Homo sapiens: one gene and its partners. The protein of the gene in region 2 interacts with the protein of the main gene of each other region in a pairwise test. Each region holds a gene or a part of one and is shown on either strand. Other genes may lie near its edges.

The links.
Region 1: the proteins of DMTN (region 2) and CEP76 interact in binary tests that used the Homo sapiens proteins (3 or more experiments, as listed by UniProt).
Region 3: the proteins of DMTN (region 2) and TEX11 interact in binary tests that used the Homo sapiens proteins (3 or more experiments, as listed by UniProt).
Region 4: the proteins of DMTN (region 2) and GOLGA2 interact in binary tests that used the Homo sapiens proteins (3 or more experiments, as listed by UniProt).

Annotation. Positions count from the first base shown.
Region 1 is NC_000018.10:12,672,125-12,678,753, forward strand, and holds the end of CEP76 (centrosomal protein of 76 kDa), read right to left. Parts: intron 6,319-6,629; coding exon 5,985-6,318; intron 2,630-5,984; coding exon 2,412-2,629; intron 1,380-2,411; coding exon 1,241-1,379; 3' UTR 501-1,240; downstream 1-500. UniProt on the Homo sapiens protein: Centrosomal protein involved in regulation of centriole duplication. Required to limit centriole duplication to once per cell cycle by preventing centriole reduplication.
Region 2 is NC_000008.11:22,051,822-22,059,842, reverse strand, and holds the start of DMTN (dematin), read right to left. Parts: upstream 3,030-8,021; 5' UTR 2,707-3,029; intron 1,980-2,706; exon of another isoform or gene 1,878-1,979; intron 764-1,877; exon of another isoform or gene 347-763; intron 1-346. UniProt on the Homo sapiens protein: Membrane-cytoskeleton-associated protein with F-actin-binding activity that induces F-actin bundles formation and stabilization. Its F-actin-bundling activity is reversibly regulated upon its phosphorylation by the cAMP-dependent protein kinase A (PKA).
Region 3 is NC_000023.11:70,548,689-70,555,718, reverse strand, and holds part of TEX11 (testis-expressed protein 11), read left to right. Parts: intron 1-918; coding exon 919-1,068; intron 1,069-2,304; coding exon 2,305-2,413; intron 2,414-3,472; coding exon 3,473-3,593; intron 3,594-7,030. UniProt on the Homo sapiens protein: Regulator of crossing-over during meiosis. Involved in initiation and/or maintenance of chromosome synapsis and formation of crossovers.
Region 4 is NC_000009.12:128,259,008-128,266,007, forward strand, and holds part of GOLGA2 (golgin subfamily A member 2), read right to left. Parts: coding exon 6,963-7,000; intron 6,875-6,962; coding exon 6,781-6,874; intron 6,685-6,780; coding exon 6,578-6,684; intron 4,086-6,577; coding exon 4,027-4,085; intron 3,698-4,026; coding exon 3,556-3,697; intron 2,751-3,555; coding exon 2,661-2,750; intron 2,555-2,660; coding exon 2,447-2,554; intron 2,253-2,446; coding exon 2,165-2,252; intron 1,796-2,164; coding exon 1,458-1,795; intron 1,183-1,457; coding exon 1,069-1,182; intron 385-1,068; coding exon 160-384; intron 76-159; coding exon 1-75. UniProt on the Homo sapiens protein: Peripheral membrane component of the cis-Golgi stack that acts as a membrane skeleton that maintains the structure of the Golgi apparatus, and as a vesicle thether that facilitates vesicle fusion to the Golgi membrane.

The DNA of each region.
Region 1 (6,629 bases), on a different chromosome or scaffold from region 2:
TTTTTTCTGAGATGCAGTCTCGCTCTGCCTCCCATGCTGGAGTGCAGTGGCGCGATCTCACCTCACTGCAACCTCTGCCTCCCAGGTTCAAGCGATTCTCCTGCCTCAGCCTCCTGAGTAGCTGGGATTACAGGTGTGAGCCACCGCACCCGGCCTAATTTTCGTATTTTTAGTAGAGACAGGGTTTCACCATGTTGCCCAGGCTGGTCACGAACTCCTGACCTCAAGTGATCCACCCACCTCGGCCTCCCAAAGTGCTGGGATTACAGGCATAAACCACTACGCCGAGCCTTACAAAATTTTTAAAACGTGCTCAATTTTAAAACAAAAATCAGTATGGAATCACTCACATATGCTTGTTTTCAGTGGTCTCACACAATCAATCTCTTATTTAGATTAGTCACATATATGCTGATTTTTTTATCACAATGAAAGAAAAAAGGGTTTCAGAAGATAGAATCCATGAAGAGGCTAATAATGAATCCTCTGACCACAGAAAATCAGTGATCGACTGCAAGATCACAATTTATCAGTATCATAACAAAGAGGTATAATAAAGTTTTTCTAAAATACCCAATTCATTTTTACAACAAATCACAGTGATAAATATTTCTAAATGATTCATGTACTTTCATATGAGGTTATTAATATTTATGCTTTTCTGGTATTAGTTTTTTCCTACTCTTGCTTCAAGGTCCAACCATAAATTTCTGGACAGTCTCAAATATCCCAAGGACCACGAATAAACCACAAAAGTGGTAATTCATTAACATTTATTTTCACCAATGCAATAAATAAATCTGTCATGAGGTTAATTTCTCCTAATCTGTATAAAATAATTCCATTAACCTGTGAAAAGTAATGATCATACTGATTTGTCTAGGGCTCAAACCCTTAGACAAACATCTCTTTGATTACCTGTTTGTGTAAAGAAAACTGAATGCATTTTATATTAATATTTAAACTACTGATAACTGTAAACAAAGTAGCATTTATTAAAATAGAATATACACTTAATTTATACTAAATTCCAGGGAGATTTATACAAGTTTTTCAGCCTTAATTTTTAAAGGAATGCATGATTTTTTTTAAACATTACCAGTCAAGTATATACAAAATTGAAGTATGCCATTCAAGCCAGATTGTGATTTTAAAATAACAAACCTCTAAATAGCTAAGTAATGTACAATGTGTAAAATTCCAATTAAACACAGGTATAAATCTTATATAAATATTGGCCCTATAATACCGAGCGATATTTACAAGCAAACATGATCCAAACAGCACATGCAGATTCAGGGTAAGTAAATACTCGGACACGAACTGCCAGTCGCACTTGGTCTCCACGGCAACAGATTATTTCTTCACAGAAAGGAGATCTATTTAAGAAAAAAAAAATTATTCAATTAAGAAGTGACCATACACTTTAATTCCTTATTTGCAAGTAAATCAGTATTTAAAATAATTTTTTCAGGCTAGGCGTGGTGGCTCATGCCTGTAATCCCAGCACTTTGGGAGGCCGAGACAGGTGGATCACCTGAGGTCAGGAGTTCAAGACCAGCTTGGCCAACATAGTGAAACCCCGCCTCTACTAAAAATTACAAAAATTAGCCGCGTGTGGTGGCGGGCGTCTGTAATCCCAGCTACTTGGGAGGCTGAGGCAGGAGAATCGCTTGAATCCAGGAGGCAGAGGTTGCAGTGAGCCAAGAATGTGCCACTGCACTACAGCCTGGGCGACAGACTGAGACTCCATCTCAAAAATAAATAAATAAAATAATTTTTTCAAATTCTGTCTCTGCTATCAAAGACACTGTAATTTTGGTCAAGCTATTCAAATTATAGACTATTTCCTTATAGTCCAAACAAAATCAGAGATACCTGAGACTGCACCAAAATCACTGGGCAAATAATCCCAGACTATCTAGGGCTACATTTCAGACCAAATGAATCAAAATCTGTGGCAAGGAGGGTCAGTCATTGTAAAAGCTCCCATATGACTTGGATGTCATTTCTAAATAACTACCAGATTAGGCTGGGTGCAACGGCTCACACCTGTAATCCCAGCAATTTGGGAGGCTGAGGTGGGAAGACTGCTTGAGCCCAGGAGTTCAAGACCAGCCTGGGCAACATAGGAAGACCCCCATCTCTACAAAATAAAGATAAAAAAAATAGCCAGGTATGGTGGCACATGCCTGTGGTCCCAGTTGCCTGGGAGGGTGAGGTGGAAGGGTCACTTGGGCCCAGGAGGTCAAGGCTACAGTGAGCCATAACTGTGCCACTGTACTCCAGCATGGGCAGCAGAGCAAGACCTTGAGTTAAAAAAAAAAAAAAAAGGAAATTAAAAAAACCCCTGCCGGACTGATCTGTAAGACTCCTAAACTGAAAAAATGATTCCGTAAATTACACCTTACCGAAGACATGTGGCAAATGCACGTCTTGCATTTCTATACACAAAATGTATTGGGAACCCTTTAAATGTGTGACCATCAGGTACAGCCCTTCTTATGGCATCTTGAAATTCTTCATTGCCTGCTGATATACTTGTTGTACGCTCAAATTCATAAGAAGCCAAAGCTGGTGATAAAAGGTAGGAGAGCTGGTCTTCCCAAACAGTAGTGAGGCCAAGATCCTATGAGCAATCAAGAGAAAAAGAAAAAGTGAAATACATTAATATTTTTAAAACCAACTAAATAAAAATGTTGATTATTTTAATGTATACCAAGAAAAGATTTTTAAAAGCTATCATAATATTTTAATAATAATAATTATAGGGATACATAGAAATAAAAATCAGATAAAAGGAACTATAGGTGATCAGATTTTACTTTTTAGAGAAACAACCAAAAAACATTCAAAACAATGTTCACAAAGTCTCCAAATCCTGTACTTCTCTAATATCTACTACAAAATACTATATGAAATAGTCCTAATATGGAGGACAGGTATAATTCTTATATTTTGAGATATTTTACTTAACTTTAAAGAGTTTAGGCCGGGTGCGGTGGCTCACGCCTGTAATCCCAGCAGTTTGGGAGGCTGAGGTGGGCGGATCATGAGGTCAGGAGATTGAGACCATCCTGGCTAACAAGGTGAAACCCTGTATCTACTAAAAATACAAAAAATGAGTTGGGCGTGGTGGCGGGTGCATGTAGTCCCAGCTACTTGGGAGGCTGAGGCAGGAGAATGGTATGAATCCGGGAGGCAGAGCTTGCAGTGAGCCGAGATCGTGCCACTGCACTCCAGCCTGGGCAACAGAGCGAGACTCTGTCTCAAAAAAAATAAATAAATAAAATAAATAAAAAAGAGTTTAGTAAGAATGAATCTGTTTACTAAAGACTGACTCTTCCTACCATAAACTCAACTACAGAGGTGAGAAAAGTCAACAAATTAATTCTATGTGATTAAACAAATATTTACTGAACATGTACTCTATAAAACTTATATACTGTAAGAGATAAAAAGATGAAGACATTTTATAGGCCCTTAGGGAGCTTAAAACATATTTCTATGGAATGTTAAAAACAACATGATTCCATTTATTTTTTATTTTTTTAAATTTTTTGAGACAGAGTCTTACTCTGTTGCCCAGGCTGGAATGCAGTGGCGCGATCTCGGCTCACTGCAACCTCTGCCTCCCAGGTTCAAGCGATTCTCCTGCCTCAGACTCCTGAGTAGCTGGGACTACAGACACCTGCCACCATGCCCGGCTAATTTTTGTATTTTTAGTAGAGACGGGCTTTCACCATGTTGGCCAGGCTGGTCTCAAACTCCTGACCTCAAGTGATCCACCCACCTCGGCCTCCCAAAGTGCTGGGATTACAGGCATAAGCCACCGTGCCCAGCCCATGATTCCATTTATAACACCAAAAGACCTATTGATATCTGGACACATGAAGTTAAAAATAATAATATTACAAATACAAAAAATTCTCAAAATTCTAGATATTTTGATTATCATAATGGATCTTTGGTATTTCCTCATTTTATATTCAAGGTTTTAACTCATCACAAATGGTCTCAAAGATCCACGATTAACAATGCTTTTCCTGCGGCAAAATGTGAACTTTTGCTGATTTACAGGCACCTTAACTTAAATAGTGATCAACACTGGCATCTATCACAGCTTTGTTTTCTTTTTCTGTAAACAGTAATTCCTTTTTTTTTTTTTTTTTTTTTTGAGACAGGGTCTTACTCTGTCACCCAGGCTGGAGTGCAGTGGCACAATCTCGGCTCACTGCAACCTCTGCCTCCCCGGCTCCTTTCACCTCAGCCTCCGAGTATCTGGGACTACAGGCATGCACCACCACACCCGGCTAATTTTTGTACTTTTTGTAGAGATAGGGTCTCACCACGTTGCCCAGGCTGGTCTTGAACTCCTGAGCTCAAGCAATCCACCCATCTCAGCCTCCCAAACTGCTGGGATTACAGGCGTGAGACACTGTGCCTGGCCAAAAGTAATTTTTATAAGATATTGCTTTTATTTGTAAGCAGAACCTAAGAAAAGAAAGCTAAAGCCAATACAAGTGATGGAAGGAAAGAAAAAGTAATAAGGGGCATTCATTTCCAGCAATATAATGGACCAGAGGTCCCCTGACCAACTTTTGCTGAAAACATATTACAAATGCCAGGTTTTCCAAAATGTATGTTTAAATGCTTTGATAAGTTGACAAGTGAATAAGAAATATTTAGAGGCCAAAGCTAAGAGTAACTGGGAACCCAGAGAACATGTTTGATAAATCAGTTTGCCTTTGATAGCCCCAAAGAACACAGAAAACAGGGCTCACCCAAGGTGAGGAGTGGAACAGGGAACCCTAAAAGGTGAATCAGAAATATTTTGTAGGCATTTTGGATTCTAGTCCTTTGTTGGTGATATGTGTTACAAACAACTTTTCCCACCCCACAGCTTCAATCTCTTAATGTCTTCTCTTGATGAGCTTAAGTCTTTAAGATACATTAATCTTTTCCTTTATGACTAATACTTTTTATGTCTTCTTAAAAGCACTTTACAAAGGAAATCTACATGCTATTTGACAAGAGGCTTGATCTGGCTGGGCGCAGTGGCTCACAACTGTAATCCCAGCACTTTGGGAGGCTGAGGCAGGTAGATCACTTCGAGATCAGCCTGGCCAACATGGTGAAACCCTATCTCTACAAAAAATACAAAAACTGGCAGCGTGGTAGCACATGTCTATAATCCCAGTTATTCAGGAGGCTGAGGCAGGAGAATTGCTTAAACCTGGGAGGTAGAGGTTGCAGTGAACCAAGATCACGCCACTGTGCCAAGATCACGCCACTGCGCTCCAGCCTGGGTGACAGAGCGAGAGATTCCATCTCAAAAAAAAAAAAAAAAAAAAAAAAAAGAGGTTTGATCTCAAAAGTAATCAGGGAAATGCAAATTAAAGCCAGACGTCTACCCAGTTGAGTACAACATGAAAACAAACAGAAACCAACCTGGGGAGAAAAATGAATATGAAAAAAGTATAACCCAGTATACATATTTTTTCTTTAAAAAATAATAGAGATGATGTTTCACCATATTCCCCAGGCTGGTCTTGAACTCCTGGGCTCAAGCGATCCACCCACCTCAGCCTCCCAAAGTGCTGGGGTTATAGGCATGAGCCATCAAGCCCAGCCTAACCCAGGATTTTTTAAGGGGCAAATATGTGAATAAGCATTTCACAAAGACAAAATCCAAATAGTGGTATTCAGCAAAAATCTTGACTCTAAGGGATGTGAACAAGTTCACCATTCTTCATTTCTAGGAGGAAGTAATTCATTCTATAAGTATTAATTAATTTGAAGATTTTTGAGTCTCAGAACTTGAACTCTCATGACTTTCAAAATTATAAGCTTCATAATAGTAGGGACTGTAGTTGTTTTGTTCAGGGCTAGAATAGTGACTGGCACTATCACACACACCAAAAAACAGTTAAATACATAAATGAAAAGAAGTATGAAACTACAACTATTTCAGTGTGAATTACCTTCCTGTGTTCTGACACCAGGAGCCTCAGCTGCATTTCAATTTCATTACTTGTTACTGACGCGTCAATTGTGGATGCACACAGAGGTGGAAAGGGAGGAAGGGATGTTGTAGCTCCAGGAGCACACACAGATTTAATTGCTTCCTCACTCATGGGTTTCCATTTGGATTCATCGTTCAAATCAAATACACAGGTTTCTACTGCATCAGAGGGTTGACAATTTCCCAGGAACATCTGATGGTTGAAAACACAACCAATTGTTCGATATGGGTACAGTGGTTTGGGCTGTTCAGCAACTGGAGGTTCATCAGGATTGGTAGGTTTATGGATGTACCTAAAAAAATTAAATAATTTTATATATGAGAACTTAAAAATTAAAAAGGCAGCATCTTACTGAGAAAATTATTCTAACACTTAAGGCCATAACTACTTCTCAGAACTACAGTTTAATACTTGTTTTTCTTTTTTATATTTCCACAATTTGATTACTCTGTATTAATTGTATGGTACGTCTTTACAATATTGAAACCAACTCTGTTAACAACAGAATACATTCTATGTATACTGTTAAGATCAAAGGCCGGATGCGGTAGTCCCAGCACTTTGGGAGGCCGAGGCAGGGGGATCACCTGAGGTCAAGAGTTC
Region 2 (8,021 bases):
TTTTAGAAATGAAGCCTCCGCAGGCAGAATGGCAACTTCGGGGTGGAGGGCCCCTGGTCTAGCTGTGCTCCTGTTTCCAGCCAACCACTACCTGCTTGGTGGCAGCCCCTGTATACTTGGGACTTTCATACATCGTCTCTAAACCTCACACAAAACGACATTCTCCTCATTTAGAGATGAGCAAAAATGAAGCTGAGAGGTGAACTTGCCGAAGGCCCCCCAAATAGAAGCCAAGCCAGAATCCCTACCCCGGCCTGCCTGAGGCCAAAGCCAAGTGCTCTTTTCAATGAGTACCAAAGATCCCAGTTCAATCAAAATGTGGGACTTGGGGGTCCCACGTGCTAACCTTAGACAGTGGAGCCACCCAGAGTCCTGCTCGTTGATGGCATCTGTAGAAGAGCAGCTGGGAGTGTGGGGGCCTCTGGCTCCGGGCCACACAGGCAGCAGGGTCCAGCCAGGCTGGAGGCCGGCTGGTGCAGACAGTAAGTGAATTATGAAACGAGGCAAGTCATCCAAGCAGGCTGGCGTCGGTGGGCAGGGAACTTTGCCCCGCTTCGCCTTCTCCTGTTCTGTTCACAGTGCGACTGCCTGGCCCTCTCTCCCTTTCTTCCTCCTGTCTTTCTGCTTTCTCTTCTGGTCCCTTTTCTTGGCTTTCTTCATCTTTTCTCCCTCCCTCCCTCTTTCCCTTTCACCCTCTCCCCTACCCAGCCCCACCCCCGCAGTTACTGTGGCAACAATTCAATGCCAGAAATAAAGGCAGAATCCAGCTAGGTCACCAGTTCCCAAAACAGCATCCTGGGTGGGGAGGGGCAGGGAGGGTGGAGCAGTGCGGCGCTGCAGGGCAGGGGCCAGGCGCTCCCATGGGTGCTGTGCATGCGTGTGATGTGGGTGGGGTAGGGCACCTTGCTCCCCGCACCCCCCCGCCACTGGAAAAGGACACCAGGAGGCTGAGGCCTGCTCTGGGCCAGTGGCTCATCAGAGGTGTCCCTTACTTAGGCGAAGCCTGAACTCCAAGTCTGTCCTAAGGCTGGCAGAGCCTGGGGACTCCCTCCTCTTCTCCCACTTTCTCCCTCTCCCCTACTCCAATGTTTTTTACCGTTGTGTCTGCTGGGATGAGGGTTCCCCTAACCCAGCACTACAGGGCACCCTCTCATACTCGGATAAAGGACCAGGCCTGGGTGGGTGGGGAGCCCAGAGTCCCCCTGCTCAAGGCCTGCCCTCCCTTGTTCTCTCAATAACAACAAAACCGGGCCCAGGTGCCCCCTCCTGCCTCTCTAGCCCACCCAGAGACGCATCTGTGCAGCCATCTTCTCCTAGGTCTCTCTCTGGTTTGGTTTCTATGTGCCCTCTCCACCCACCCTCTGAAGAGACCCCGCTTTCTGCTTTCTGCATCCTGCAGCCCCCTCAGGCGGACTGCTTCCCCTCCATTTATAGCTGGTCCTGTTGTACAAGTGGGACTGGCAGAGCTGGGGGAGATGCAGCCTCAATTCAGCTTTCTGGATCCCAGGGCCTCCCTGTTCCAGTCCCACAACACCCAGGAGCTCTAGGAGAGGGATTCTGCAGACATCCACCCACGGGTGGACAACCTCACCCAGGAGTCTAACGCCTGACCACAGAGAGGCCGGCAGCACGGACACAAGATGGACAGGTGGGCACAGGCAGAAGCGCCCGCGCTGAAACCGTTGCAGGACGCATGCACGCGGGGAGACTCCGAAGCCCTGTGTGCCAGCTCATGCCCCCACTCTCCCATCGAGGCCCCCTCACTGTGACACATGGTGCTGCCAACACCCGCTCACACCCACCCACCGGTCCTCTCCCTGGCATCCATCCCAGAGTAGTGCACGTGTACAGCAACATACACAGAGCCCTCCACTTACCCAGCTCTGGAGGCCTTCCCTGGGCTCCCCATTCCCACAGCCCAACTGCCTTCCTTGTCTTGGACCTGTCCCTGCTCCCCTGACTCTCACAACCAGGCAACTGGTCCCTGGAAGGGACACACTGGGTGTGTCTGCCCAAGAAAGGGGGCTGGACCTGCTAGGCCCTGAGGGACAGAGCTAGGGAGGGGGAGCCCCAGAACCCTGTGGGGGCTGCATGTCTGCTCAGCCCTGGCCCCTTCAAGCACCCCAGCGGCGGGCACAGGGGGAGTACTGGGCTTGGGCTTGCAGCTGCGCCCTGCCACAGCCTCACTCTTCACTCAGCCCCACCCCAGCCTGGCCAGCCACTGGCTGGGGGCAGGCTCTCCTCCCACTCCCCCTAAAAAGCAGGCTCCAAACAAACAGCCTCAGGCCCCTAAATGTACTGCTCCAACCCCCAGAGCATGTGGAGTGGTTTTGGGGAGGCCAGCGGGCCAGTATTCAGCAGAGAGGGAATGCTCCCCTGCCCACCCCGTGCCCCCACAGTCCATCCCTTCCATTGCTGGCCTGCTCAGCTAGGTAGGCCAGGCAGAGATGCTGGCAAAGAGGGGATTGGGCTGGGAGCAGTTCTCATCCTTGGGATGAGAACACCCCAGGCCCTCTTCCCCAGATCAGAAGGTTCCATTAGATCAGGCCCAGCTGGTCCCAGGGGCCGGCCCATCCTCCCACTGAACAGGGCCCACAGTGGGCTCCCCCCAGATACCCTGCTGCCACCCAAAGCCTGGCTCGCCAGCAAGCGCTGTGGCCCAGAGTGCCCACAGAGGGGAGGAGAGGCGGAGACCCTGCCACCTACCTCTTCCCAGACAGTGTGGCCCAGACGCTCTGAGGCCACAGAGGCCCGAGAGGCGTAGGCCAGATCCACGGGCTGTCACTTCCCCCAGGAGCCTAGGTAATAGGTGTCTCTTCCAGGAACCCCGCGGCGCTTCCCCGGAGCACAAATAACAGGAAAAATGCCGGCTTAGGGTGGGTGGGCGGGGTGGGAGCTGGCGAAGGAGGGGAGCTGGTCTCGGCTGAGCGGTCTGATCTCCCCTCTGGGCCCCCACCCTCCTTGCCCCCACCCTGCTTCTCTGCAACGCACGGCCGCCTGGATCCCCCGGTGCTGGGGAGTCCTCGTCTGGGGGCGGGAGGGCGGGCGGGCTGCTGGCTCCCCCACGCCCTCCCCGCGCCCTCCCCACTTCCAGCTGATAGCGTGTGGCTGGCAAGGGTGTGTGTGTGGATGTGCGCGCTCTTCCACCAGCGCTGCAGCTCAATCCATTTCAAACAAGAGGAGCATTAACCCAGCGTCATGACAAAGCAGAATCAGCCAGCACTGTCCTCTCCCTTTCCCACACCGCAGTCTGCAGCACTCACACGCACACACACACCCACACGCACCCAGAGCCCCTCAGCCTCCTCCTAAACAGCCAGAGTTCAAGTTGCTGTGGGCGGTGGGTCGAGGGAGGGGGCTACTGATGACCCAGGCGGACAATGCCTGCTTTCTCCAGGCACCTGCACCTCCTACCCTATTCATGACCACCCCACCATCTGACAGCAGCAACTGAGGCCTCTGGGGCCCAGCCTCTTGAGGTGGGGGTGCAGGCACAGGCCAGAATTGGTTACCCAAGGATGAGCTCTCTCCTGGGAGGGTAGAATGGAGGGATGCAACCAGGTCCTCAGTACTGAGACTTGAGCTGGCCCCTCAGTAACCTGAATCCCCTGGGAACTCCAATGGGATGCAGCAGAGAGAGAGAAGGACCCCATCTCTCCCTAGGGTGGCTTCATGAAAAAGGAGCTTCCTGCCTGGTAACCCCTGGGTCCCAGCACAGAATTTACAGGCATGTGCCTTCCCTGTCTCTAGCAAAGCCTCAACCACCCCAGGAGCCTCTCATTGGCCTTTCGGGCCCCCTGGGCAGGATGGGGAAGGACAACAAGCCTTGCCCTCGACCCTCGCCCTGGCCCCAATGTCCTCTCCACCTCCACACCGCAGACTTGCCTACCTAGGCAGCCCTCACCGTTGCCCTGGCAACCCTGCCCCCAGCCGGTCAGCTGATGGTATCAGCTGTTGTTGGGGAAATCTAGAATCTGGGGAGGGGGCTCTGGGGTGTCTGAATGGAGAAGCACAGGGGGAGGGGCTTGAGGGAAGAGGCCAGGAGGGGACAGAAAGTATCTGGCTGGTGGGGACAGAGAGGACAGTAACCTGAGGGATGGGCTCCAGAGAGAAGGGAGGAAGGAAGGAGGCAGGTGGCTGAGAAGGGAGACAGAACACAGGCTGAGCTGCTGCAGCCAGGCGGGGGTGGCTGTGAAGGTAGAGAAAACCTGGGGGTGGGGGATGAAGCATCAGATCCATGGAACTGCAGAGAAAAAGGCCAGGAGAGTGATGTGGGAGGGGGCATACCTTCAATGTGGCAGAAAGGGGCACAGCCTTGGAGGAGGAGCCACTCCAGCCATCGCTCCACAACCAGCCCGGCCTCAGCCCAGCCTCTCGGCTTTCTGTACCTTCAACCCCACCCTTACTTCCCTCTAATCAGAGTCTGAGAGACAGAGGGGAAGCCCCAGCCCCACTCCAGCCCTAGATGATCTCTCTCGGTCCCTCCAGCGGACCAGGTACTTGGGGCTTTGACACCTCAGCCCTTTAGAATTCCTGATCCCCGCCGCACCCCGACCTGGGTTCCTCCCCTGTATTGCCCCTCCCCCACCAGGCCCCACCCCAGGAGAGCTGTCTTCTGGTGCAAGGGTCCCCAGAGGTAGAGTTGGAATGAGCTGATGCCAGGAAGGACAGCTGTGGCCAGGGGCCTGGAACGAGGTGGGTGATGAGGAATGGGTAGAATCGCTGGGCCTGGGAGGAGGGGTGCCTCCTCCTATTGAAGCCAGTGCATGTAGGGCAGAGTAGGGGGAGTCAAGGGGAAAGGGCGGAGGGGAGAAGGAGGGGAGGGTGCTCGGTACCTTCAAGGGCCCAGGGCGTGGGGCAGGAGCGCAGCAGCCTCCTCGGTGACATACACCTCCATCCCTCGGCGCATCTCCTCTCCACCTCCTGTTGCCAAGACAACCTGCCGGCAGCTCAGGCCCGGCTCAGCCGCGGCAGCAGGGAGGGGGGGAGGAGGAAGCTGTGCCTCCCGCTGCCTCTTCCTCAGAGATGGAGGGAGGGGGCCTGAGGGTGGGTCCTCAGTGCTGGGGCTGGGGGTTAGGGGACAGCTTCAGGAGCTAGGGTGCCCAGTGAACCCCACCAAGTACCCCATCCCCCCACTTCCTTTCATAAGGCTCTAGAATTGGCTTTAGGGGTGACCCCAGGAGAACCCTAATTCAGGGCTGGAGAGCAGGCCAGTCTTGAAGAGTATGCAGCACTGGGGAGAGTCCCCACTCCAGGAAGCCCAGTGTGGAGCTCGGGACAATGACAGGCAGCAAGGCAGGGACAGTCCTTGTGCTGAAGGGCCAGAGGGGTTGCTCCGGCAGGGTTCAGAGGCCCCTGGGCGCTGGCTGCACTGGGCACGCGGCTGCGGGCCCCACACCTCTGCCGTCTCTGTGAGCACCTTCACCTGGTCCCAAACCCTCTCTCATTCCACCTGAGAAAACTCAGAGCAAGGGACAGCTCTCTTCCAATTCCTCAAGGCCCCATTCCCACTGTCCCCCACCATGCCTGAGTCTCACATTCTATCGGAATGTCCCTCCATGGGTGGGGCGGGCGGGCCACCTTGGGCAGGAAGAGTGCTCAGCCCAGCCAGGCCTGGACCCAAGGGGACTGCAGAGTGAGGGCTCCCTCTGTCGACCTGAGGAGTGGTAGCTGCCAAGGTCATTTTGCTGCCAGGGATCTGGGCTGTGTGTGTGTGTCTGTGTGTGTGTGTGTGTGTGTATTGGTGGTGGGCGTTCAGAGGGGAGGCAAGGGGACCCTTCTCACCCATGCCATCCTCTGACCCTACCTCGTCACTGTCCTTGTCCCATGGGAAGACTCACTCTGCCTCCGGCCTCCTCCCCCTGGGAAGGCCTCTGACCTCTCAAGGCCAGCTGAACTGAACTCCCCCATGGCTTGTCTGAGAGGGGAGATTCTCCCCCTTGAAAGCTGGCAACACTGAACAACAGGTGCCTGTTGGCTCAGGCCCCAGGCGGGTGGGCTTCCTCAGCTCTGCTCCATACTGAGCAGGCAGGAGGCGGCTGCCAGGGCTCTCATACCTTTGGAAGTTCAGGAGTTCTCAGGACCTTGAGGATGGGCGCTTGTGTCCACAACACGGGGCCAGGATTCCTGTATCTCTCAGGCAGGGGGGTCCCAGGCCCCCCGACGCCCCGTTCTTGGCTCCTTTCCCCACAAGGTCACTGGTGCCAGATGTCCTGGGTGGACTCCGGCCCTGCTGCCTCCTCCCTCCCCCAGGCCCTGTCGATAGGCTTCTCTGTCCACGTCTGGTCTGTCTCACTCCAGTGCCCCCCGGCCCCACCCTACACACCAACCTGCTGGGCGGGGGAGCTATCTAAACATTAACTTCGGGAGAGGTGGAGCCAGGGCACCTGGACACTCAGGGAGGAAGGAAAGGGTGACAGAGACCTGAAGAAAAGGAAGGATGAGGGCCCCAAAGCCACCATTCTCACCAGAGATTGGGAGCCATGTGCCCCTGCCTCCGGGCATTGGACTCTGCTGCCCAGACCCTAGAGCCTCCACTCCTTCAGCATGCTGCCACCAGACCACTGCATCTGGCCCCCGCAAAGCCCCTCACCATCTCCTCCCTGCCACAGCATAAGGACCAAACTCTTCATCATTTGATCCAATCACTTCCTGCCACTTCTCTACACAAATTTCAGCTCCAGCCAAGTAGACGGACTATTCCCCTTCCCTGGAGCACACCTCCCATTTTGCCGCCTTGATTCTCGTGCCCGTTTTTCCTCTCGTCATTTTCCGCTCTGTGCATATTTTCTCCACTGAAATCATCTGAAATCATGCAAACCCCAGACCTTCCACAAAGCCCCCGCAAGCACCCTGGCCTGTGCTCTCTCCTGCCCCAGAACTCACGATGCCTGGGCACACTTTGCAGGCAAAGTGTGGAAGCCGGGCAGAATCTAGAGTGCAGTGCTCACTAGCTGTGAGACCGTGAATGGCCTGGCATTTCTGAGTGTGAACTCATCCACATGTGCTACATGGGAACATCTCACTGCCCTAAAGAAGGATTGCAAGCAAGTATGCCCTGAGTGTGGCCTAGCACATCTCCTGAGCTCGGTACATATTAGTTTCCTTATTCCCAATAATTCTTATCTCCCCTTTCCCTCTTTGGGGACGTACGAAAAAAAAAAGGTTGCTTTGTTATGTCATGTGTAAGAGAGGGTTTTCCAAAAGTCCCACCAAAGAACAAATAATTGCCTTTTTATGGGTTTATCCCTCCAATTAAATTTCAAGTGCCTTGAGAGCTCTATCTTGTCCATGTTTTTTATTAACAGAAGGATTAGCACAGGACTTGAATGTTGTGGGGGGAAAATAAACACTGGGACTAACTGCTTAAGCCCCCGCCCCACCCACGTCTGCCTAAAGAAGGAAGGAGAAGGCAGGATTCTGGCCTCTCTCCTGCCTCTGCCTAGAGGGATGGTGGGGTGTTGGGCCAATGACTTCTTTCTAGGGCTTCAAGTGGTTTATTTCCTCAATAAACATTTACCCTGTGCAACATACTGTGCTGGGCACTGTCGGGGAGGAAAAGATGGACTATTTCTACATCTGGGGCACTTGCTATTTAGCGGAATCATGACAAGCACATACATCATGACAGTTCTGGACAAGCTGTGACATGTACCACAAGGCAAGGGCAAGTGAATGGCTGGCAAGACCAGTGGCAGTGGAGACAGTCGCTCATCCCGGGGTAGTGCCAAGAGCCTATGGAGCAGAGGAGGAGCCTGCGGTCTGGGTGTGTGTGTGTGTGCTAGAGCAGGACACGCCAGGTGGCGGGGACCCTTCAAATGAGAATGGGGACATGCTTGCTTGATAGAGTTCCAGTTTTCCAGTATTCTTAAAGGGGAGTTGTGGGGCTAGGGCCGAATAGGGAGACTGGACAGGGCTGGACAGGAGTCTTAAAGATGACGCTAAGGAGTTTGGCCGGGATAGTGTGGCGTGGGTAGAGCTGTGGTTGATGGTAGGGAAGGTAAGTGGAGCAAACTCGGATG
Region 3 (7,030 bases), on a different chromosome or scaffold from region 2:
TCCTGAAAGGAGGGCCCAATTCCCAGTTCATCTTATGAGACTATTATCCTGATACCAGTAGTAGACAAAGACAATATAAGAAACTGCAGACCAAGATTCCTCATGAAAATAGATGCAAAACATAAACGCAGAAAAGCAAAGATAGTTGCTACCTTGGTTGGATGGTATTGACTGGAAAGGAGCACAAAGGAACCTTCTGTATTGTTGGAAGTGTTTGTTATCACAATCTAGGTAGTTATTACACGGGTTTAAACACATGTAAAAACTCATCAAGCTGTTTAAGGTTAGAGCACTTCTTTCAGTTTGTTGTATATATGTCATACCTCAAAACATTTTTCAATGTTCAATCTACCAAGAAGGATGAATGAAAAGTGTCTCACATAGTTTAGTGTATGACACCTGACATGAAATTCTTTCTATGCTGATGCCCAAGAAATTCTGTCGACTAATGAAACAGTTTGGAAACTCTCCTCTATTCTGCTTAAAATAAAGTCACTGTTGGTTTATACAGCACTGTATCTTCTGGTTAACTCGGCCATTAGAGTGAGCACCAGCCCAGTTGAAAGTTCACAAGAAGCAAGTAAACACTGGATTTGATTTAGAATCAATAATAGCAGCAGGGTTTTCTCAGGCTGTTTAGAAGCATCGTGGCAATTGTTTGAGAAAATATAGGTAGTTCTAGTGAATGCGCTACAGAATGTTGGAAGTAGCGGTTAGCTTAGAGATTTTAAAATGTTAGAATCAAATAAAAAACAAAAATAAAATTTAGAATCTGTCTACAGCAGTGAAGATGACCTTCAAATTGTAAGTAAAATTAATATTTCTTAGAAGGAAAACCTCTCCAGTTAGTGAAATTACAACCAAAGAGAATAATATAATATAATCACAAAGAATGTTGCATTTTTGCCTCTTTCTTAGGGACCTTCTCAAATGATTCATGTGAGAAATTGCTTCTGCTGTACGAGTTTGAAGTTAGAGCCAAATTGAATGATCCATTACTGGAAAGCTTCCTGGAATCAGTGTGGGAGTTGCCTCATTTAGAAACTAAAACTTTTGAAACAATTGCAAGTAAGAGCTATATTTATGCTTTTGTAAGGCTGGTGCCCATTTAGATCGTATGACTTTTTTTCTTCTCTTTACTCTTCTTTCTTACCTCCAGGTAGGAAATAATTTTTTCTCATAGCACTTTGTTTCTCCTTCTCTAATGCCATTCTTAGACTATTTTGTATTATGATCATTTGTGCATTTATCTTCTTCACTCTATGAGATTATAATCTCTTTAGGGTCATAAACAATAATTACTTAATTTGTACTTACAAACCCTAGCGAAGTTCATTGCTCCTAATAGGTGCTCAAATTTTTTCTGTGTGGAATTTAATTATGTAACTACACAACAGGGGGAGCTCAAACTTTAGAAAGTTTTTCTGGGCTAGCTAGAAATAACTGAGTGCTTCAACAATCAAAAGTGATGCAATCTTAGCTGTTTGTTGAAATGTACAGAGAAATACTGGTAATATTTTTTAACACAATTGCCACTCTCAAATTTCAGGCCAAACTTTACGTGGGTTTGGGGGCATAGAGCCTTTTTGGGAGTACACTGCAGGAAACAGCCTAATTATCTTCCCTTTTTATCTCTCACCCTCTTCAGGAGCATGTGTGTGGTTAATAAAAATATTAGGTAGCTCCAAGTGCACAAGAGTCACATTTGCCTTTCCTTGGTCTTGCCAAGACAGAATTCCTAGAGCCATGGAGCAGATGATATATACTTTATGGACATGTGACAGCAACCACTGCTCCTTGTATAATGGAACTCCAATTCTAAAAATCTGTTAAATGCATCTGGAAGTCTTAGGGTTAGTTACCTCTGATACTCCCTTGTCAAGTGTTTCCTATTTTTAGTATCAGATAAAAATAGGACATTTTAGTACAAACCTGTTTCAATTAGTGCCCTTTTACTGATCTGCTTTCTGTTTCCTTCTTAGTGTGCCCTTCCTTGACTGTCATTCATAAGATTATTGCTTCACCTGTATGACTGTGTGCAAGGTCATACAAACAGTAGGTTTTCTGTTGATGTTTGCTGAAAAAAGGATGTTACCTGGTAATCCCACCATGCTACTCTGCCCAGAAAGTAGAAGCTATTTCCAAAAGCGACTGTAGATTTATCATTTATAAAATTCATTGTTGTTTATTTTTGTTCATCTGTTTCAGCCCAGTTTCATTAGAGAAAGCAAGTGGTAGCCTGGGATGAAAACTGTGATGGGTGACATTATCATGTTCACAACCTTTTTCCTTTTCTTACTCTAGTAATAGCAATGGAAAAGCCTGCACACTATCCTTTGATTGCTCTCAAGGCCTTGAAAAAGGCTTTATTGCTCTACAAAAAGGAAGAACCAATTGATATATCACAATACAGGTTAGTAAATACAATCCAGCCTTTTTGCTAGCCAAAAGAACTATAGTCAATGCCTCAAAAGTAACCAATCGTTCTTAATTGACTCAACTTTAAAGATGATATGGGGATGATCTGGGGGCATTCTTGTGAACAGCTCCATACTGAGAGTTGTATTACAGACCAATAATTATTTAGCAAAGTCAAGGAGCTTGGTTTTCCCAAAGGAGAAAAAAAAGGGGAAAAGTTGCTTCTTTGTGTGAATCTGTGTATATAATAAAACTGCTAAGTACCTTTCTTTCTTTGTTTCATCACTAAATAATATTCCAAATGTACAGAAAAGCACAGGGGTTAATATAACAAACACCAACGTATCCACCACCCAGATTTATTTGTTTTATTTTTAGAGATGGGGTCTCGTGATGTTGCCCAGGCTGGATTCAAACTCCTGGGCTCAAATGATTCTCCACCTCAGCTTCATGAGTAGCTGGGATTACAGGCACGCAGCACCCAGATTTAACAAATGTTAACATCTTGCTATGTTTGCCTCATTATTTTTCTAAGCACTTTAAGCACCGATAAGTGCTGTATAAAATATTATCTATTGGAGACTTTTTTGTTTTCTGTGTCCAGACATGGGGAAAAATAGATGTTGTGTGACTTTTTTTGTCTGGAAAACATCATTACAGTCTTCCTGTGTTAAGGCACGAAAGACAGTTCTTGTGGAATCATTCCACTTTAAACCCCAGTTCCCTTGCCCATTTGAGGAAGTACCGAGATGCTTTAAAATGCCTGTAAATTGAACCAGCTCATAAAATATAATAGACAGCCACAACTCCTTCGTGCAGGAAACTAAAAAAAGAATGAAAGACAACCATAGGCATGAAAAAAGAAAGGATTGGTCAACCTGTTTTACAGCTTCAAAAATCTGTCTTCTGAGGTTGGAGGCCAGATAAAACCGAGGGAAGAACAGAAGTGTTTTGAAGCTGTTAGTCTGGGATGAGATCCAGGTTTTACTTATCTTAGCCATGAAGCCAATGATTTCTTTCCTTATGGGATGAGTTTTCTCTTTTTGATTTTCAGCAAATGTATGCACAACTTGGTTAACCTCTCAGTGCCAGATGGGGCGTCGAATGTAGAGCTCTGTCCCCTGGAAGAAGTTTGGGGCTATTTTGAAGATGCTCTGAGCCACATTAGCCGCACTGTAAGTCAAATAGTGATATTAAACTTTCAGTTAATTTTAAAGAACTGAACTGTCTTGTGTACTATAAATTATATACAATAATGCTTTCTGATATGAGTTTTAGGATAAATTCATATTACAATTTTGTAGTTACACACTACAGAATTTTCCTGGGTTTCTGAAATATAAATAGTTGAAAGTAGACATTTTCTAACACAAGTGTATTATGGATTAGGTCCAAGTAGCAGTACCACCAGGCATTTTGAATTATTTTATATTTTCAAATCATGGTGGGATGATTACTTTCTCTGTGATGATATGAACCTTTTGAAAAAAGTTATTGCTATTCCCATCCTTTCTCAGAAGCATCCTTTCTCAGAAGAGTAGAAGGAACATTGAAGACCTGTATTCTAGTCCCTCCTCTGCTGATTTCTTTTTCTTTTCTGTGCAGGTTTATTCAGTTGTTTTAAAATTAGGTTTCTTGAGGTATAATTCACATATCATAAAATTCACCCATGGCTTGTGCACAATTCAGTAAATTTATAGAGTTGTGCAACTATCACTACAATCCAGTGTTTTTTAGTTTTAAAAATGTTTTATTTTTAATTTTTGTGGGTACATAGCGGTGTACATGTACCCATACTTATGGGGTACATGAGATTTTTTGGTACAGGCATATAATGCATAATAATCATATCAGGATAAATGGGGTATCCATCACCTCAAGCATTTATCCTTTGTGTTACAAGCAATTCAATTATACTTTTAGTTTTTTAAAATGTACAATTAAATTATTGTTGATTATAATCACCCTGTTGTGCTATTAAGTACAGATCTTATTCATTCTATTTTTTGTACCTATTAACCATTTCCACATTTCCCCCACCCCTCCTCTGGTAACCATCACTCTACTCTTTCTCTCCCCAGCAGTTCAATTATTTTAATTTTTAGCTTTCACAAATAAGTGAGAACATGTGAAGTTTGTTTTTTGTGTGTGTGCTGGGCTTATTTCACTCAACATACTGACCTCCAGTTCCATCCATGTTGTTGCAAGTGACTGGATCTTATTTTTTTTATGGCTGAATAGTACTCCATTGTGTATAGGTACCACATTTTCTTTATCCATTCATCTGTTGATGGACACTTAGGTTGCTTGCAAATCTTAGCTATTGTAAACAGTGCTGCAACAAACATAGGAGTGCAGATACCTCTTTGATATACTGATTTCCTTTCTTTTGGGTATATATCCAGTAGTGGGATTGCTGGATCATACGGTAACTCAATTTTTCGTATTTTGAGGAACCTCCGAACTGTTCTCCATAGTGGTTGTACTAATTTACTTTCCCACCAACAGTGTGCAAGGGTTCCCTTTTCTCCACATCCTCACCAGCACTTCCTATTATTGCCTGTCATTTGGATATAAGCCATTTTAACTGGGGTGAGATGATATCTCACTGTAGTTTTGATTTGCAGTTCTCTGATGATCAGTGATAGTAAGTACCTTTTCATATGCCTGTTTGCCATTTGTTTGTCTTCTTTTGAGAAATGTCTATTCAGATATTTTCCTTATTTTAAAACTCGATTATTAGATTTTTTTTCCTATAGAGTTGTTTGAGCTCTGTATATATTCTGGTTATTAATCCCTTATCAGAGGGGTAGTATGTAAATATTTTCTCTCATTCTGCAGGTTGTCTCTTCACTTTGTTGATTGTTTCCTTTGCTGTGCAGAAGCTTTTTAGCTTGATGTGATCCCATTTGTCCATTTTTGATTTGGTTGCCCATACTTGTAGGATATTGCTCAAGGAATCTTTGCCTACTCCAATATCCTGGAGAGCTTTCCCAATATTTTCTTGTAGTAGTTTCATAGTTTGAGGTGTTCGATTTAAGTCTTTAATCCATTTTGATTTGATCTTTGTATAAGGCAAGACATAGGGATCTCAACTTTCCTCCTTCTGCATATGGATATCCAGTTTTCCCAGCACCATTTATTGAAGAGACTCTTCTTTCCCCAAAGTATGTTCTTGGCACCTTTGTCAAAAATGAGTTCACTGTAGATGTATGGATTTATTTCTGGGTTTGCTATTCTGTTCCACTATGTTGAGCTGCCTGGGGCTGGAGGAGGGGTGATACAAGCACCCTTGTGGCCACTGCCACTGGGACTGTGCTGGTCAGACCTGAAGCCAGCACAGCACTGGGTCTCACCCAAGGCCCACTGTAACCACTACCTGGCTACCACCTATGTTTGCTCAATGCCTTAGGGCTCTACAGTCAGCAGGTGATGAAGCCAGCCAGGCTGTCCTTCCCTTCAGGGCAGCAACTTCCCCCTGGCCCCAGAGATGACATGCAGGAGCCAGGGCCTGGAGTCAGAAACCCTAGAAATCTACCTAGTGCTCTATTCTACTGCAGCTTAGCTGGTATCCAAACCACAAGACAAAGTCCTTCCCACTCTTTCCTCTTTCCACACGCAGAAGAGTCTCTCCCCGTGGCCACCACCATCAGGTGGTGTGGGGAGTTCTGCTGGGCTACTGCCAGTGTTCACTTAAGGCCCAAGGGCTCTGCAATCAGCTTGTGGTGAATGCTGCCAGGCCTGGGACTCATACTTCAGAGAAGTGGGCTCCTCTCTGGCCCAGGACAGGTACAGAAATGCCATCCAAGAGCCAAGGCCTGGAACCGGGGACCCTAGGAGCCCACTTGGTGCTCTAACCCACTGTGGCTGAGTTGATATCTAAGCTGCAATACAAAATCCTCTTTACTCTTCCCTCTGCTTTTCTCAAGCAGAAGGAGTCTCTCCTCATAGCCACCACAGCTGGGAATGTACTGGGTCACAACTGAAGCCAGCATGTCTCAGAGTCTCACCTAAGGCCCACAGTATGTACTACCTGGCTACTGCTGCTGATCACTGAGGGCCAAAGTGCTATTTAGTCAGCAGGTGATGAATCCTGCCGAGACTGGGTCCTTCCCTTCAAGGCAGTGGGTACCTTTTAGCCCGAGGTGTGTCTCAAAATGTTATCTGGGAACTAGGTCCTGGAATGGGACCTTCATGACTATGCCAAGTGCCCTGTCCTACTGTGGCTGAGCTGGTATCCAAGATGCAAGACAAAGTCCCCCTTAAGCTTCCCTCTCCTCTCCTCTAGTGGAAGGAAGGGGTCTGTTTTGGAGCTGCAAACTGCACTGCCTGGGGTTGAGGGAGGGGTCGTGCAATCACTCCCTTGGCTGCCCTGGCTGGTGTCTCACTAGGTCGCATGTCCCCCAGATGCACTGGCTCCAAGCCCAGCACAGCACAAAGATTTGCCCAGGAGTTGCAGTCCTTGTGGCCTAGACTGCCTCTCAAATTTATTTAGAACCCCAGAGCACTTTAGCTCTCAGTGGCAAGGCTTGTTGGAACTCAAGTTCCAACTACTGGGATGGACAATTGCTCTCTAGCTAGGGCTGGTCTAAATACTCCCTCCATGAGCATC
Region 4 (7,000 bases), on a different chromosome or scaffold from region 2:
TTCCCCAGGGTGAGCCATGAGGCTCAACTGGGCCCGTAGCTGCTGATTCTGCTGGGTGGCAGCTTCCAGGCGCTCCTAAGGGGCCAGAAAAGAGAGTGAGAAGGCATGGAGGTTGCCAGGTTGTCCCCCTCGGGGCCCTGCCCTCACCAACTCCCTCACCTGGGTTTCCTGCAACTCTTGGCGGGCCATCTCGGCCACCGCTTTGCCCTGAGCTTCCTGCTGCTGCAGCTGGTCCACGAGCTGGGTCTGCAGCAGTAGCTGATTATGCAGCACCTCCTTCTCAGAGGTCAGCTGCTGATAGGCGGCCACATACTGCTGCAGGTGTCCCAGGTACTGGTCTCGCTGCTGCTGCAGACTTTGAGCCTCTTGGCTCTTCAGCTCCACCTGTAGGAAGACCCTGGGCGTGAGGGCAGGTGGTGGCCTGCTTCCAGATTCAGGGCCCATAAATAGGGTAGCGAGGGCTCTGTCACCTGCCCAGACCTCTGGCCCCTTGCTCCAGGCCTAAGTGACTGCCTCCCTTGTCTAGAGCCTCGTGCCTCCTTCCCCAGCCTCAAATTTCACATCCTTCTTCCCACCATTTAAACCGTAGGCCACAGACTGGTGGAAACGCAGAGGGAGCCAACCACCATCTGCTAAGTGTGCTACATGCCTAATGCTTTCCACGTATTATCTCATTGAATCCTCAGCACCTCTGCAAGGAAGATGCTAACTTCCTTTTTAAGTTAAAGAAACTGGGGCTTAGAGATGCAAAGTAGTTGAATGATGACCAGTGGAGCAAAGGCCAGAATCCAGTTTGAATCTAAGGAGCCTCTTATGCCGCTGTCTCTTCCCCTGTGATTGGGAGAAATCCATGCCTCTAGCTGGGACGATGATGTCCAGACCTGAGAGGAGCCCAAAGCTATCCACCTCTAAAAGTCAGAGGGCAGGGAGCAAGAAACAGTCACAGGACTGCCCTGGAGGGTGCTGGGGTCACCTGTGCCCCAGGCTGGAGCTGCCTCTGGCCTCACACCACCCCTCCCCAGAGGCTGGTGCCCGCCTCCCAGCCCTTCTTGGATGGGGCGGGGTTACCGTTTCCTTCAGCTCGCTCAGCTTCTCCTGCAGCTCGCCCAGCTTCTTTCCCAGCTCCCTCTTGACGTGCTGCTCCGACTGCAGTGCGCTGGTGATCTCCATGTTCTCATTAGTCTGGACAGAGAGAAGCAATCAGCGGCCACCCACTGCAGCTGGAGACCCCAGAACTTGCTGCCTTGGTGTCTGCCTCCCATGGCACCGGGAAGGGTGGAGGCAGGTTAGAAAAATCATCCCCTCTCCCCCACAGCCATCGGAGCAGGGCTCTGGCTCACAGATGCCTCCAGAAGTACCATTTCAAGTGAGGGCTACACTGCCCCACTTTACAGGTGGGAAAACAAAGGTCTGGAGGGCTAGGGAGGAGGGCGGGCTCTCCAGGTGGGGCAGCGCACCAGCTTTACAAATCCGCTCTGCAGCTCAGCCAGCTGCTCCTTGAGCTCCCGGTTCTGGGAGAGTGCGCGGCTGATGGTAGTGCGGTCGTTCTGCATGGTCTCCAGGATTTGCCTGCGCGCCTCCGCCTGCTCCCCCCAGAGCTCGGCCGCCCGCTCCAGCTCCAGCAGCCTCTCCTCCTGCTCCCGGTTCAGGCGACTCAAGCCCTCATTGTCTTGCACCTGGGCTTGAAGCTGTCCTGCCAGACCCTCCAGCTCCTTCCGCAGGTGCTCAGCCTCCGCTTGTAGCTGCTGCTCCACCTCGGAGGGCCCTGCTGGGGGCTCTGGGGGCGGGGGTTCAGCTGAGAAAGGACGCAGACAATAAAAGCCTCTGGATTCTCAAAAAAACCCTCCTCTTGGTCCATACCTCCTCTCAAGCTCCCCAAACTTGGCCTCCCTGCTGATGATTCCTCGCACCCGGATGTTAGCCAATCTTCCAAACCACTTTCCGATAGCGACAACTGTGGGTGGCTGACAACGGGCACTCCTTCGTCTTTGCTGATGGGGCACTGAGGCTCATGGAGATGACGAGACTTGCCATCTCCTGGCACAGACCTCTTTCCCTCTGCCTCAAAGCCATTCCATCCACCCAACTCCCTGGGGCATTCTAAACCACCCCCACAACCCTCTGACACCATTCCTGCTCCCAGGTCACCCCAGCCCCAGCTTACCCATCTGGTTCCTCAGTTCAGCCAAGCTCGTCTCCAGCTCCTGTACCCGACTCATGCTACATTCCTTCTCCTCTCTCAATGTGTGCACCTGCCCAAAGCACAGCAAGAAAGGGCCCTGGAGAGGGGCTGGTGGCTGGACAGGCTACCATCTCCCTCTGCCCCCACCGCCACAAAGCCCAGACCCATGACCACCTCTGGCTGTGCTCCTCCCATTTCGCAGATGCCCAGAAAGATCAAGTGACCTATCTAAGGTTGAGGGGGAGCTGAAGGGTCAGGTCTCACCTGCTCTGACATCTGCTGCATCCTCTGCCGCCACATGGCGCTCTCTCCTTTGAGATTCTCCGCATATTTATCTCTCTCCATTTGTAGTTGTCTAACCGACTCCATTACCTGCAAGAATGGCCACAGAAATGAGGAAGGACTGTCACTGGTTGTCACCTACTCCTGGCCACCTGGGGTCATCTTCCTTCTACATCCCTCCCCTGCAAAGCCTCACCTGCCCCAGGTGTGCTTCCAGCTGTGCCCGCTCCTCCATGGCCTGCTGTAACTGCTGGTTAGCATCAGGGGCTTCACACCGGCTTGAAAACTGGATGGTGAAGAGCGAGAAGTTTAGATCTGGGGAGCCCAGGCCGTTCCAAATAGTGCCCCTTAAAAGGGCTAGGGCTAGGCTCAATGTGCAACTCAGTCAATACAACTCTGCTGTCAAGTTTCTTTGCTTTAGAAATAAAAAATAATTTTAAAAAGATCTCAGGCCAGGCATGGTGGCTGATGCCTGTAATCTCAACACTTTGGGAGGCTGAGGTGGGTGGATTGCTTGAGCTCAGGAGTTCAAGACCAACCTCGGCAACATGGCAAAGCCCCGTATCTACAAATACAAAAATTAGCCAGGCATGGTAGTGTGCGCCTGTAGTCCCAACTACTTGAGAAGCTGAGGCAGGAGGATGGCTTGAGCCTGGGAAGTAGAGGTTGCAGTAAGTATCACTCCAGCCTGGGTGATAGAGCGAGACCCCGTCTAAAAAAAAAAAAAAAAAGATCTCTACTCTCTATTATTAGTGAAAGTGTTGGCTTGAACCTCAGAAGGAAATAAACAGACTCATGAGCTAGCCATATAAATGTAATCTCTAAAATAATGGTTTTCACCCATGATGCTTTAAAACAAAACAAAACAAAACAAAACAAAAATTGTCTTAAGCCCTAACCCTAAGATTCTGATTCCCCAGGTCCCCAATTTGTAGATTTTTAGCACTCTCTAGAGGATTTTATGCCAGGACCGGAACAAGGACCCAAATTTTCCAGCTCTTGGCTGGAGTCTCCCCATGCCCTGCATGATCCCTAGACCATGGCCCCAGCTGGATGGCGCTCCCACCACCCATGGGGCTGCAGCCTCTTGCCTGTTGAAGCAGGAGTTCCGTCATCTCTAACTTCTTTTGCAATTCTTCCAAGTTAAGCTGCATGCCAGCCTTCTCAGTCACTAGGACCCGAAGCTTCTCTTCCAATTCTGATTTCTCTTGCTTCAGGTCCTCATTGCTTTGGCTATGGCCAGAGGCAGTAGAGAAAGGAATGAACGAAGAACAGAAAGGACTGCTTTGGTGATCCACCCTCTACCCTTGCCCCACAACCACAGAACTGTGGCACTGGAAGGAACCCCAGGAATCAAAAGTCACATGTACAGGCCAGAGAAAAGATACGAGTTACCCAAGGCTACACCATGAGTCAGTGGCACAGCTGGCACTAGAGCTTTGCTGGGCACACATGCACACCTCTATGACTACCTCATCATGCTTACCTGTACCCCCCACCTCCCAGCACACCACCCATGCTGAGGGCCCCCAGACCTCCCATCCCACCATCCCCCATCCTACGTGTTCTTGTATAACTCCAGCCTGAGGGCGTCTCTCTCTTTGGTTAACTCCTTGTTGTACTGTAAATACAGAAAGGTTAAGTCAGGATATAGCAGGCAGAGGAGCAGCTGGCCAACCAGTAACAACAGCTACAGTAAGTACTCCACAGTAACACTTCCTCACTCTCAATCACACTTGACATGTTTTCAAGGCATTTCCAAGCCCATGGTCTCATTTTGTTGTTGCTGTTGTTGTTTTTGAGACAGAGTCTCCCTCTGTCACCCAGGCTGAAGTGCAGTGGTGAGATCTCAGCTCACAACCTCTGCCTCCCTGGTCCAAGTGACTCTCCTGCCTCAGCCTCCTGAGTAGCTGGGACTATAGGCGTGCACCACCATGTCCGGCTAATTTGTTTTGTTTTGTTTTTTCTGAGATGGAGTCTCTGTTGCCCAGGCTGGAGTGCAGTGGCGCAATTTCGGCTCACTGCAAGCTCCGCCTCCCGGGTTCATGCCATTCTCCTGCTTCAGCCTCCTAAGTAGCTGGGACTACAGGCCCCCGCCACCACACCCGGCTAATTTTTTTGTATTTTTAGTAGAGACGAGGTTTCACTGTGTTAGCAAGGATGGTCTCGATCTCCTGACCTTGTGATCCGCCCGTCTCAGCCTCCCAAAGTGCTGGGATTACAGGCGTGAGCCACCATGCCTGGCCTAATTTTTTTATTTTTAATAGAGAGGGGGTTTCAACATGTTGGCCAGGCTGGTCTTGACTCCTGACCTCAAGTGATCCGCCCGCCTCAACTTCCCAAAGTGTTGGGATTACGGCACCCGGCTGGTCTCATTTGTTTTTAAAAAAACTTGGTAAGGGTGGCCGGGTGCGGTGGCTCACGCCTGTAATCCTGGCACTTTGGGAGGCCGAGGGGGACGGATTACGAGATCAGGGGATCGAGACCATCCTGGCTAACACGGTGAAACCCCATCTCTACTAAAAAAAAAAAAAATACAAAAAATTAGCCAGGCGTGGTGGCAGGTGCCTGTAGTCCCAGCTACTCGGGAGGCTGAGGCAGGAGAATGGCATGAACCCGGGAGACAGAGCTTGCAGTGAGCCGAGATGGTGCCACTGCACTCCAGCCTGGGCAACAGAGTGAGACTCCGTCTCAAAAAAAAAGGACTTGGTAAGGGTGGAAGGAACAGGGAGAGAGAGCGAATTTATGTATGTACGTATGTATGTATATATGTATTTATTTGAGATGGAGTCTCCATCTGTCACCCAGGCTGGAGTGCAGTGGCGCCATCTTGGCTCACTGCAACCTCTGCCTCCCGGGTTCATGTGATTCTCCTGCCTCAGGCTCCTGAGTACCTAGGATTACAGGCATGCGCCATCATGCCTGGCTAATTTTTGTTATTATTTATTTATTTATTTATTTATTTATTTATTTTCAGACAGAGTCTCCCTCTGTCACCCAGGCTGGAGGGCAGTGGCACGATCTCAGCTCACCGCAACTTCCGCCCCCGGGTTCAAGCAATTCTCCTGCCTCAGCCTCCCAAGTAGCTGCAATTACAGGGGCACGCCACCACACCTGGCTAATTTTTTGCATTTTTAGTAGACACAGGGTTTTGCTATGTTGGTCAGGCTGGTCTCGAACTCCTGACCTCAGTTGACCCACCTGCCTCGGCCTCCCAAAGTGCTGGGATTACAGGCATGAGCCACCACACCTGGCCAAGATCGAATTTACAGCTGGCTAACAGAGGCCCAGAGAGATCAGATAATATTGCTATTGTTATTATCATTATTACTACCACTGTTTGAACCTTTATTGAATGCTTCACCAGGCACCATGCTAACAATCCCATTTAATCCTCATAACCACCACATGAGACAGTTACTATTATTACCTCTATTTTGTAGATGGACAACACGGAATATTAGAGGTTAAGTGCTTGCCTAAGATCACTTAGACAGAGCTCGGATTTGAACACCCAGGTATATCTGACTCTCTAAGCTCATTTGTTCCCCGAGGGTGGGGGCACAAATAGGAAGGGGGAAATTATCTTTTGTTCAGTTTTTGAAAGGATGATATATTCAGATAGTCCAAAACTCCGAAAGGGCAGAAGGGAAATATCTTCCAGCCGTGCTGTTCCTCTCTCCTGAGTTTGTTATGAATCCATGCAGACACGTTTTATGTATATTGTCATAGTACATAGGTACACATACACACACACGTTCCCTCTCTCTACACAAATGGTAACATACTAAAGATACTCTTCTGTACCTTCACAGTACAAGTACCATATTCCCCCACCTAGGACTTGACCAAGGCCACAGCCAGGTAACGGCACAGCGGGCACTTGGCCTCCGAGCTCTGCGTCCAGTGTTCACTCCCCACAGTGCCCCCAAACTCACCCACAGCAGCTGACTCAGCCCCAGGATGCCTCTAGCAACCACACACAAAAGCAGTGATAAATGGCCCATGCTGCCTTCTAGGCAGGACAGTCAACCCTGCAGAAGGGACCTTTAGGCTCACTCCTCCATCTGGGAAGCCAGTATGCCAGGGGACGGGGCAGGCAGTTGGACTCACCCTGTCTGCCTTCTTCTGCTGCGTGGAGACAGCAGAGAGAGCCCGCTCCAACTCTCCCACACGCCGCCGGGAATACTGCAGGCGGCTGGCCAGATCTTCAGACTCTCCTGGAATGAGAGAGGTTGAGATGGGGCCCAAAGGACTCCCCCTAAAGGCCTGTCAAAGTGCCAGGTTGAAGGATGATGGGGTGCCCAGATTCCCACCTTCTTTCTGCCTGGCAGCATGCTGAGTGTGAGCCAGGGCTGTCTGTAACTCAGCTTTCTCTGATACGAGGATCCCTATGGTCTGAATGTGAACCTTTGGGAGGAAACCCAAGCAAGTGCTGAAAAAGAAGGAAAGAAACATTCTCCAGAGGACAGGACGGAACTTCACACCCTCCACTCACCTGTAACTGCTCCCTTAGGGCTCCCTGCTTTTGGTGGC